Homo sapiens: one gene and its partners. The protein of the gene in region 1 purifies or fractionates together with the protein of each later gene. This does not show direct contact. Each region holds a gene or a part of one and is shown in the gene's direction. Other genes may lie near its edges. The genes, in order: HSD17B4, EMC2 and SPATA7.

The links.
Region 2: the proteins of HSD17B4 (region 1) and EMC2 fractionate together in Homo sapiens (co-fractionation; one large-scale study listed by BioGRID). This does not show direct contact.
Region 3: the proteins of HSD17B4 (region 1) and SPATA7 fractionate together in Homo sapiens (co-fractionation; one large-scale study listed by BioGRID). This does not show direct contact.

The regions. Positions count from the first base shown.
Region 1 is NC_000005.10:119,525,379-119,529,036, forward strand, and holds part of HSD17B4 (peroxisomal multifunctional enzyme type 2), read left to right. Parts: intron 1-538; coding exon 539-645; intron 646-1,754; coding exon 1,755-1,841; intron 1,842-3,658. UniProt on the Homo sapiens protein: Bifunctional enzyme acting on the peroxisomal fatty acid beta-oxidation pathway.
Region 2 is NC_000008.11:108,450,124-108,453,781, forward strand, and holds part of EMC2 (ER membrane protein complex subunit 2), read left to right. Parts: intron 1-277; coding exon of another isoform or gene 278-304; coding exon 305-369; intron 370-2,938; coding exon 2,939-3,024; intron 3,025-3,658. UniProt on the Homo sapiens protein: Part of the endoplasmic reticulum membrane protein complex (EMC) that enables the energy-independent insertion into endoplasmic reticulum membranes of newly synthesized membrane proteins.
Region 3 is NC_000014.9:88,416,568-88,420,225, forward strand, and holds part of SPATA7 (spermatogenesis-associated protein 7), read left to right. Parts: intron 1-143; coding exon 144-277; intron 278-3,658. UniProt on the Homo sapiens protein: Involved in the maintenance of both rod and cone photoreceptor cells.

The DNA.
Region 1 (3,658 bases):
TGAGTAGCATTTAAAAAAATGTTATTTTATTTATTACATTTATGCAAAGGATATGGAAAGGTAGGAAATGTGTTCAGAAAATAGTGCACTTGAAATTCAGATTATGGTGGAGGGAAGTTCCCGCTAGTGCGAGGTCTAGGATAGGACCACGAGGGTGGGTGTGTGAGTTATCACAAAGGACAAGGTCATTGGAGAGAGAGCAAGGAACTGAAAGGTTAGGGAAGGATCATGTACCTGTGTGGATGTTGAGAGTACCCTGGATGATTTCATGGTTACAACCAAAACTAAACAAAACAATTGTGTTTCCAGATCTCTCACATTCTTTTCCTGTTTTGTTTTTTTTTTTTCTTTCTTTCTTTATTTCATAATTTCCTCCCAGGAAATACTCTTTAAAAAATATCTACTGTGTTTCTTAAAATAGATGGTATAATTCCTGCTAATGCAGTCTAAGGACATTTTTAAAGTCCTGAATTAACTACACTTGATTTTTAAACTTTAAAGGTACCTGTATCTAACTCAGTGTTCTCTCTTTTCCTAGGTTTTGACAAGCCCATATTACATGGATTATGTACATTTGGATTTTCTGCCAGGCGTGTGTTACAGCAGTTTGCAGATAATGATGTGTCAAGATTCAAGGCAATTAAGGTAAATGTGTATTACTACGTAATTTGAATATTACTTCCTTTTTCTATCTTTAGAGAAGAAAAGGGGTTTTAGTGATTTAATTGAAAATAGATATTGTACTACAGCAATGTACATTTTTATTATTTCATTGACCTGGCAATCAGCACACTTTCTTTTTGTAGCTATAAATAGCTCTGTTGCACATGCACCAGGAAGGATGCACAGTTGCAATTTTGACAGATTAACTGGGTTGCTTTATAAATTAATTAGGTGCATATATTATATATATATATATCAGTACGTATGCCTTGAAAACTCAAGATTTGCTTTTTTTAACTGTTTTATCATTTTCATTAATTTAATTAAAAATGTTAAGTGGCTGATTAAGTCCAATAAACATACATCTACAGCAATATAATGACTGCATATTGTTTTAACTCTGTACTTTTTAGTTGATTTCAAATTTTTATCCATTATAAATAACAAGGAAAAATATCCATGCCCATATTATTTTTGTGTATGTTTAAGCCAAAAGATGTACACTTAAAAAAGTTTAAGGGGTTGTCAAATAGCTCCAAAAGCTTTTAATTTATCCTCCATGCAGTAGTGAAAATATATTTTCTGATGCATTGCCTTTGATAACACTAATTACTCTCATGCTTTTCATTTTGTTACAACTATTTTTTATTATCCAGTAATATATACACAGAGAAAATAATATAAAAAATTATGAAATAAAAAGTGGAATTATTTTGCCCTGCATACTCACCCCAGGCCTCATTCCTTAGACTTAATTTGTACCACTTTTAACTGTTTCTTTAAGTTGTTCTGATGTACCTATATAACTCACCTAATATGATTATGGTTTTATTTCTTGATTTGTCAAGATAAAAAACACTATTTTTTGATTCCATACTTTGAAAGACAAAGAATTGGCTTACTTATATTAGTTACATCTTTATTTTACTAATTTTATCATATTATACTTAGGTCTTTTATGAATTTAAATATCTTTAAACCTTGATTTTTTTTTTCTTTTGTGCTCTCTAGTTTCCTTTCCAATTTTTTCCTCCTACAAGTAAAAGAGTTTCCTTTTAAAACATTTTTAACCCCACAATTCTTTTTTAAAGGCTCGTTTTGCAAAACCAGTATATCCAGGACAAACTCTACAAACTGAGATGTGGAAGGAAGGAAACAGAATTCATTTTCAAACCAAGGTATGAATTTTGCTTTTTCACCCTTCTCACATGCTTTATCATTGTGTTCCATCTTACCATTTTTTTTTGGTTAGTACTATGGATAGAAAGTTCTTTTTAAGTAATGGTAAATTTTAATTAAAAATAAGATACAGCTTGTCTGGTGTTTTCAAAATTTTTATTTATCAGGCAACACTTAATAAAATAGAAGTGTTTTGCACCCTGTGTTTTATTTTCTCTTTTATTTTCAACTAAATTGGTAGCTATCTATGTAGCAGTGGCCCAGCTATTCTGAAAACCCAGCCAACCATGTCTTTTTGGCTCAACTAGTCAATCAAGTCATTGTCAAAATATCATCTTAAAAAATTTAAAGGCATGACTCAGACAGATATACAGTGAAAACATGACAGAAATCTATCTGACTCATTAATGAAGGATCTTGCAATATGATAAAACATGTTCGAAAAAAAATTAGAACAACAGTTTATATGGTCCAATAGGAAAGTTATTCTAAAATAATTTTGCAGAGTTAGAGACAAAATTAGTTAATATCCTATAGAACAATAAAATCTTATCCTTTATGAGTTTTCTCTGGACAGAAATCATATGCATCTTGATTACACAAAAAATCCACAAATTAACAAGTTACATCACAGAGTCTGGGCCTAACAAATAGTAAATGAGGTTATTTTGGGGTGAGGCTGTTAGCAATGCTCCAGTAAAATACTAAAAGGACATGCAATCATTGTTTTATTTGCAAGTTATTAAAAGACAGTTTTTGTTAACACAGTTGACCAGGCTAATACTTTTTGGCTTGATCATTTCATGCTATATAGAGCATATTAAACAACTCCAATGATAATAGGAACAGCTTTCATTTATTGAGAACCTATAAACTGGCAATAGTATTTTCTTTAATATGCATAATAAATCTGTATGTAAATATAAGAAAATCTAGGTTCCTAAGAAAATCTAATCTAGGTGTCCTAAATAACTTGCTCATGGTCACACAGCAAGTGGTTGAGCTGGGATAGAAACCCGATCAGCATGGCTTCAAAGCTTTGATTACAGGCCCCAAATGTCTTTTCTGTATCATGTTTTCTTTCACAAATAGATAACTGCAAAATTCTTCTTACATGGTTGCTTTACTCCTAATTCCTTTCTGCTGGTTGCAATATCATTTTCCTGCTTAATTTGTACATATTGTTTATTTTACTTTTCAAATTCCTCCTGTCCTTCAGGCTTAAGTTCAAGCTCCACTTTGCTCTTAGAGACAGTCTCTTACTATTCCCCACTTTCCTACCCATAGATACACTCAAATTGGTGTTCTCTGAAAGCCTTTGCAGCTAATATCTGTGCCACATATTTTGGAGCCCTCACATTTTCTAATTTGTTTTGTATGAGTAAGTTTTGCTTTTTGATTAAGATTATGAACTCTAAAAGTGTTAAGGACCATGACTATATTACAGGTTTTTATTTTCCTGCAATTCTGGTGATGAATAGTATGTAAATAATTTCTATGGATACAAACTTGAAGGGCTGAGAAATGATTAAATGTCTAAATATAATGTATTCTTGCCATTTTGTTAAATTCTAAGCATGCTGTCTTATCTTTTCAGCATATTTGCTATATTTTTCTTCAGTGATTATAGATATTCTTTTTCTATTAGTTTTAGGACTCCTTCTCTCCCTGCCTCCTTTTCTCACTTTCTCCCTCCCTTCCTCCTTTCCTTTCTATTCTTAAGATATAAGAAACATTTTAAACCAGTGTTTTAAAATGATTTGCTTGATTTGGTAACAATAAAGTAATTTACTGAAGTGCATTTTGTTCATTAATT
Region 2 (3,658 bases), on another chromosome or scaffold:
ATCAAATAGGCATTTTGTTTTAAAGCTCACAGGGCTGCCAAATGTCTGGCCAAAATGTATTGTGTATGGACTCTTTTAGAACAGTAAAACTATTAAATAATTGGAGATTTTAACCTTACATTAACATATTTTACACTGCTGAAACATGTAAGAATGCATTCTTAGTTTCAGAGATAATACAATAAATCAGTTTTCAGTTATAAGTAATGTTCTCTAGAAATATCAGAAACTAGAATTCATTAATTTCCATTTGGGTTTGTTTTAATATTAAATTCAGTTTTTTTCCCCCTTTATGTGTATCTAGTTTGGATCATATATGAACAGGTGATGATTGCAGCACTAGACTATGGTCGGGATGACTTGGCATTGGTAGGTATTTAAATGAAGTATATATTTAATTTGCTTCATCAATTGTATACCGTAGTTAAGACTTAATGTATGGCTTATATGGAATGCTTTCAATAGCTAGTTTTGAGTGCTACTCTGAACAGTAAGTGGAACTAACTAGATATTTTAGGACAAAGTATCTTATATCTTTTTATTAGTCCTGAGAAGTAGCTGTTTAGTATCCCAGTTTTACTGTAAAGATTTAGTTACTGAAATTTATCTGCTTAGTAAGTGACTTATCCTATTTTATAGAGTTTAAAATAAGAAAGTTTAAAACAATTTTGTATTTTGTGTTATTGAATGACTTTCACAGAATGTAATGTTCAATACTGTTACACAATATTATAAACATATCTGACATAAGAAAATCCCGACGTATAGAACATAACATAAAATACTAATAATGTTTGGCCAGGCAAGGTGGCTCACACCTGTAATCCCAGCACTTTGGGAGGCCGAGGCAGGCAGACCACCTGAGGTCAGGAGTTCGAGACCAGCCTGGCCAACGTGGTGAAACCCCGTCTCTAGTAAAGATACAAAAAATCAGCCAGGCGTGGTGGAGCGTGCCTCTAGTCCCAGCTACTCTGGGGGCTGAGGCAGGAGGATCGCTTGAACCTGGAAGGCAGAGATTGCAGTGAGCTGAGATTGTGCCACTGCACTCCAGCCTGGGCAACAGAGCGAGACTCTGTCTCAAAAAAAAAAAAGAAAAAAATCAAACAAACCTAATACTGCTTTTAAAATAACACTGTAATGGTAGCTATGTTTTTGGACTCATGCTAGGAACGAAGCTAAATGCTTTACATCATGATTTTATTGAGCCTTCATAATTATTTCTTGATTTGATTTGTGTTTGATGTTATTATTATATTTATTTTATAAATCAGAAAGCAGAGGCATCTGTTAATGTTGTTCCTATCATCTTGAATTCTTAAGTACCGCTTCATGCTGCCTCTGTATTTAAACTGAAAGAAAATATGCAAAAACAAAAAATTGAAATACCTGAAAAAAATTCACATCTGAATTAGTATTGTCCTTTTCAAGGTTGGGTTGGCTATACATGTAATTCTAGTGGAGCTGTTAGTGATGAAAACATTCCACAAAACCTTTGTTGGATTACCTTCAGAACCTATGAGACATAGTCTTTTGAATATTCATAGAGGTGACCGTTTTATGTCTTGAGAGAGGTTTTTATTTTTATTTTTTTTGAAATAGCCAAATATCACTTGATAAAGTAGGAAGTCAAATTAGATAACACTATTGATTAATAAAGCAGTATACACAATTAAACAGTAACTTTATAATGGTTAAGATTATTTATACAGTTAGCTTGCTTGACTGACCAAGTAATATGATTTTGCTTGATATCAAAGAAATAAATGAACATATCTTCACTTTTGATTAACTTGAATATTTTTCTTAGTGTGGCAAATTTCAGCCACAAACTTTGAAGCTGTATTTCCAATTCATATTAAAACTTATTTTATTACCAGTTAATAGTTTCATCAGTAGTTAATGGCATTGTTTTGGTCACACATGCATTAATATGCTTCAGTGGACTATTTGTATCATCTTTAACATTTCTAGGACTTCCAAAACTTTGAATCCTTCATATGTTGCTGAGAATGTAGATACTCAGTAAATATTTGATTATTTATTTAGTCAAGTTGATGAGTCAATTATGGATACTTGTTCAAAGAAATTGGTATTCCATCCGTTTAATGTCTGTATTTTCTGACCCCAAATCAGGATATGTTGATTGAAAGGATGATTGATTGGCTGGGTGCGGTGGCTCATGCCTGTAATCCCAGCAGTTTGGGAGGCCAAGGCAGGCGGATCACCTGAGGTCAGGAGTTCGCGACCAGGCTGGCCAACATGTTGAAACCCCGTCTCTACTAAAAATACAAAAATGAGCTGGGTGTGGTGACAGGCGCCTGTAGTCCGAGCTACTTGGGAGGCCGAGGCAGGAGAATCGCTTGAACCCAGGAGGTGGAGTTTGCAGTGAGCCAGGATCGTGCCACTGCATTCTAACCTGGGTAACAGAGCAAGACTCCATCTCAAAAAAAAATAAGAAAGGTTGGCTGATTAATATAAAATTTCAACAGGGCAAAATTAATCAGTGTTTATGTTATTTGCTAGGAACTTGAGATGACTACTAAAAAACTTAGTTCTTACCAGGAGAATGCTTATGCTGTAATTAGGAAGAAAACGCCAGGCGCTGTTGTCATTTAAGTAGGGGCCTGACACATTATAGAAGTAGTTTTTAAGGAGGAATAATATGATATTAGTACTTAAAGAGTTATTAGTGGTTCTCATAATCTGTTCATTTTCCTGGTTAAGAGCATGATCAGTTTCTGAGAACTGATTGTTGCCTTCACTGTAATGTCATAGTGCTTCTTTCAATCCATTATTTGTTACTGATTAATTTCACTTCATGTTATTAGATGACACTAATGAAATTATTCAAGAAGACACATTGAAGACTATATAGGCCATCCATTGTAGCCCATTTAGTATAAATAATGTAATTACTACTCAACCCTTATTTTTTCAGTTTTGTCTTCAAGAGCTGAGAAGACAGTTCCCTGGCAGTCACAGAGTCAAGCGATTAACAGGCATGAGATTTGAAGCCATGGAAAGGTAACCAAATCTTATCAGCTGGCAGGCATGGAGCCTGTTAATCATGGTGGTGTTAATTTTTTTTTTTTTAATTCAGACATTCTAGAGTGTGTGGAATACTGTCTCAATATGGCTTTAATTTACATTTTTTGATGACTAATGAGGTTGAAAACCTTGTCATGTTTGCTTAGATATTCAAATAACTTCTTTTTGAAGTATCTTCTTTAGTCTTTACCCATTTAAAAAATTGCGTTATTTTACCTTTTTTACTGCTGATTTGTAGGAGGTCTTTATATATTCTGGATAAAAGCTTTGTCAGATATATGTGCTGTGAATATTTCTCCCTATTCTCTTGCTTGAATATTTTATTTTCTAAATGGTGCCTTGTGAAGTTTTTAGTTCTGATGAAGTTCAGTTTATCATTTTTTTTTTAATGCTTAGTCATTCTTTTGTCCTGTCCAATAATTCTTTTCTAATGTTTCAACAATATTCGGTAGTGTTTTCTAGACAATAGGAACATTTAAATTATGATTATTTTTAGTTTGTAAGAGTGCTTTCAGACTATTTTTCTTTTTGCCGTCTTTTAAAATTTTATTTTCAGTACTTCTAGATAATTGATTGTGCTGTACAGTTTAACTGTGTCCTTATATTCTGC
Region 3 (3,658 bases), on another chromosome or scaffold:
CTTTATATAGGAAAATAAATGGATTTTTATTTACATATCATAACATTTTAACAAGAAAAATGTTCCATTTATTACTCTAACAAGACCAAAAAACCAATTTTCTATTTTGTTCCATATTTTGAAAGATTTGTTTTCCCTTTTAGATGCAGACCAACAACGAAGAGAGAAACTCAAAAAGGAATTAGCACAATGTGAAAAAGAGTTCAAATTAACTAAAACTGCAATGCGAGCCAATTATAAAAATAATTCCAAGTCACTTTTTAATACCTTACAAAAGGTAAGATAGTATTTTTATTTTTTAAAAGCAAATGTTTCTAAGGTACTTCTTTAGTGGTACAATCTGACTTTGTTTACTATAGTTTAGGGTCAGCAAATTTTTCCTGTAAAGATCCAGATAGTTAATATTTTAAAAGGCTGTTCAGGCCTCTGTCACAACTACTCTGCCATTGGAAGGCAGACATAGACAGTACATAAATAAATGAGTATAGCCGTGTTCTGCTGAAACTTTATTAACTGAAGACATTGGGTCAGATTTGGCCTGAAGGTTATAGTTTGCAGACCCCAGTTATAGGTTTTTTGTGATACCTTCGAACATCTGGTTAAATAAGTTCTATTCCTAGTTTGTGAAGTTTTTTTTTTCCCTTTCTCCTGAATGGATATTAATTTTATGAAATGCTTTTTTGCATCTCTTGGAATGATGATATTATGATATAATTTTTCTCTTTTAATCTGTGGGGTTTTTTTTTTTTTATATATATATATATAGTCTCACTCTGTTGCCCAGGCTGGAGTGCAGTGGCATGATCTTGGCTCACTACAACCTCCACTTCCTGGGTTGAAACAATTCTCCTCCCTCAGCCTCCCCAGTAGCTAGGATCACAGGCACCCACCACGACTCCAGCTAATTTTTGTGTTTTCAGTAGAGATGGGGTCTCGCCATGTTGGCCAGGTTGGTCTCAAACTCCTGACCTCAAGTGATCTGCCCACCTCGGCCTCCCAAAAAGTGCTAGGATTACAAGCATGAGCCACTATGCTGAGCCTCTTTTAATCTGTTAATGTAATGAATTACAAACAATTGACTTTAATGTTAAACCAACTTTGCATTCCTGTTGTAAACAGAACTTAGTCATGGTACATTACCTTTTTTATTCATTGCTAGATTTACTTACTAATATTTGTTTAGAATTTTGGCATCTGTCCATTATTGATACTGGCCTGTCATTTTCTTTTTTTGTACTCCTTGTGTCTGGTTATGCTATCCTCATAAAATAAACTGGGCACTATTTCTTCTTTCTGTACTCTAGCTTGTGTACATTTGGTTTATTTGTTCCTTAAATTTGGTGGAACTCAACATTAAAATTGTCTAGGCCTAAAGTATTTTTTATGAGAAGATTTTGACTACTGATTCAATTTTTTAAGTCATTATAGAATGATTTCAATGTTAGATTTATGTAGGAAGTTGTTCATTTTATGTAAATTTTTGGCAGAGAATTGTTCATACTATTCTCTTAATCTCTTCTGAATATGTATTATTTCCCCTTGTTATTCCTAAGGTAGTTTATTTGTGCCTTCATTCTTCTTCTTCATCATTCTCATCAGAGATTGAGTCAGTTTTTTTAAAGGACACACTTTTTATTGTGTTAGTCTTCTCTATTGTATTTTGTTTTCTGTTTTGTTAATATCTGTGTTTATCTTTATTTCCCTCTCTCTGGGTTTATTTTGCTGTACTATCTCTAATTTTATTTAATTTATTAATTCTCTGCCTTACTTCTTTGCTAGTGTAAGCATTTTTAATGCTATAAATTTTCCACCAAGTACAGCTTTAGCTGCATCCCACAAGTTTTGATAGGTGGTATTTTTATTATGTTTCAATTCGAAGTATTTTACAATTTTCTTTTTGTTTGTTTGTTTTTGTTTTGTTTTTTGAGATAATGTCTTGCTCTGTTGCCCAGGCTGGCATGCAGTAGTGTGATCTCGGCTCACTGCAACCTCCGCCTCCTGGGTTGAAGCAATTCTCGTGCCTCAGCCTCCCAAGTAGCTGGGACTACAGGTGCCTGCCACCATGCCCAGCTAATTTTTGTGTTTTTAGTAGAGTCTAGTTTCACCATGTTGGCCAGGTTGGTCTCTAACTCCTGACCTCAAGTGATCTGCTTGCCTCAGCCTCCCAAAGTGCTGGGATTACAGGCGTGAGCCACCATGCCCGGCCTACAATTTTCATTATGATTTTTTTATTTAACCCAGAAATCATTTAGAACTATTTCTTAATCTCTGTATCTGCTTTTTCCTTAGTATCTGTTTGTTACAGATTTCTAGCCTAATTGTACTGTGATTAGGAAACATCTATATTATATCCATTTCTTGAAATTTATTGAGCACTTGTTTTATGTCCCAGTAGGTGGACAATTTTTTAAAAATGTCCTGTCATTATATGTTTGAAAATAAAATATATTCTATAGTTTTTGCATGTAGTATTTGATATATAGTATATTCATTAAACTTTGTATTTTCCAGATATTCAAATCTTTTATATCATATTGATTATTTTTGTCTGGTTAATCTATCAGTTATTGAGAGAAATCTTCCACATACTTACATATTTAGCTATTTCTCCTTGTGGTACTATTAATTTTTGATTTACATATTTTGAATGCATGTTATTACATTAGAGATATTAGAGATACAGAATACAGATTTAGAAAATCCTGAAGGAGGTAGTTTCTTGGTGAACTGAACCTGTTATCACTGTGCTTTGAATTTCTTTACCTTAATGCTTTTTCTATTAATATTTTCTGATAGTGATATAATTAAATTAGCTTTATTTTGACTAGTATTTACTTGGTATATCATTTTCCATTTTTTGATCTTAATGTTTTCTTCTTTTTTTTTTTTTAATGTCACTTGCCAATCTCAATGTTTTAGGTTAGTATTTGGTGGGTCAGATTATTCAATCTGATAATCATTGTCTTTTTTTTTTTTTGAGACAGAGTCTCGCTTTTTTACCCAGGCCAGACTGCAGTGGCGCTATCTTGGCTCACTGCAAGCTCTGCCTCCCGGGTTCACGCCATTCTCCTGCCTCAGCCTCCGAGTAGCTGGGACTACAGGCACCCGCCACCACGCCTGGCTAATTTTTTGTATTTTTAGTAGAGACGGGGTTCCACCATGTTAGCCAGGATGGTCTCGATCTCCTGACCTCGTGATCTGCCTGCCTCGGCCTCCCAAAGTGCTGTGATAATCATTGTCTTTTTAATGGGGCATTTAATATGTTTTTATTTCTGGCTTCTTATTTCATACCTTCTATTTGACTCAATGTGGTAGACAAAATTTGAAGACAACACCCCCACAGTGACCCACACCCTTAAGCAATCCCCTCCTCTTCAGTGCAGGTAGGACCTGTAACTTGCTTCTACCCAGTAGAATATGGGAAAGATGATAGGATGTCACTTCTGTGATTCTGTTATGTGGCAAAAGTGAAGGGATATTTTCCCCTGCAGATTAAGGTTTTTGTTCCTTAAAAGAGAATGGAAAAATAAGTCTGGGAAGATTTTCCACAGTGACTGCTGTTTCTCTCCCCAAGCCACACCAAGAGAAGGTGGGAAAGGGATTCTCTCTACTCTTCCCTATAAGCTTCGAGTAGGTTTCCTGGAGGAAAAGCCTGCAA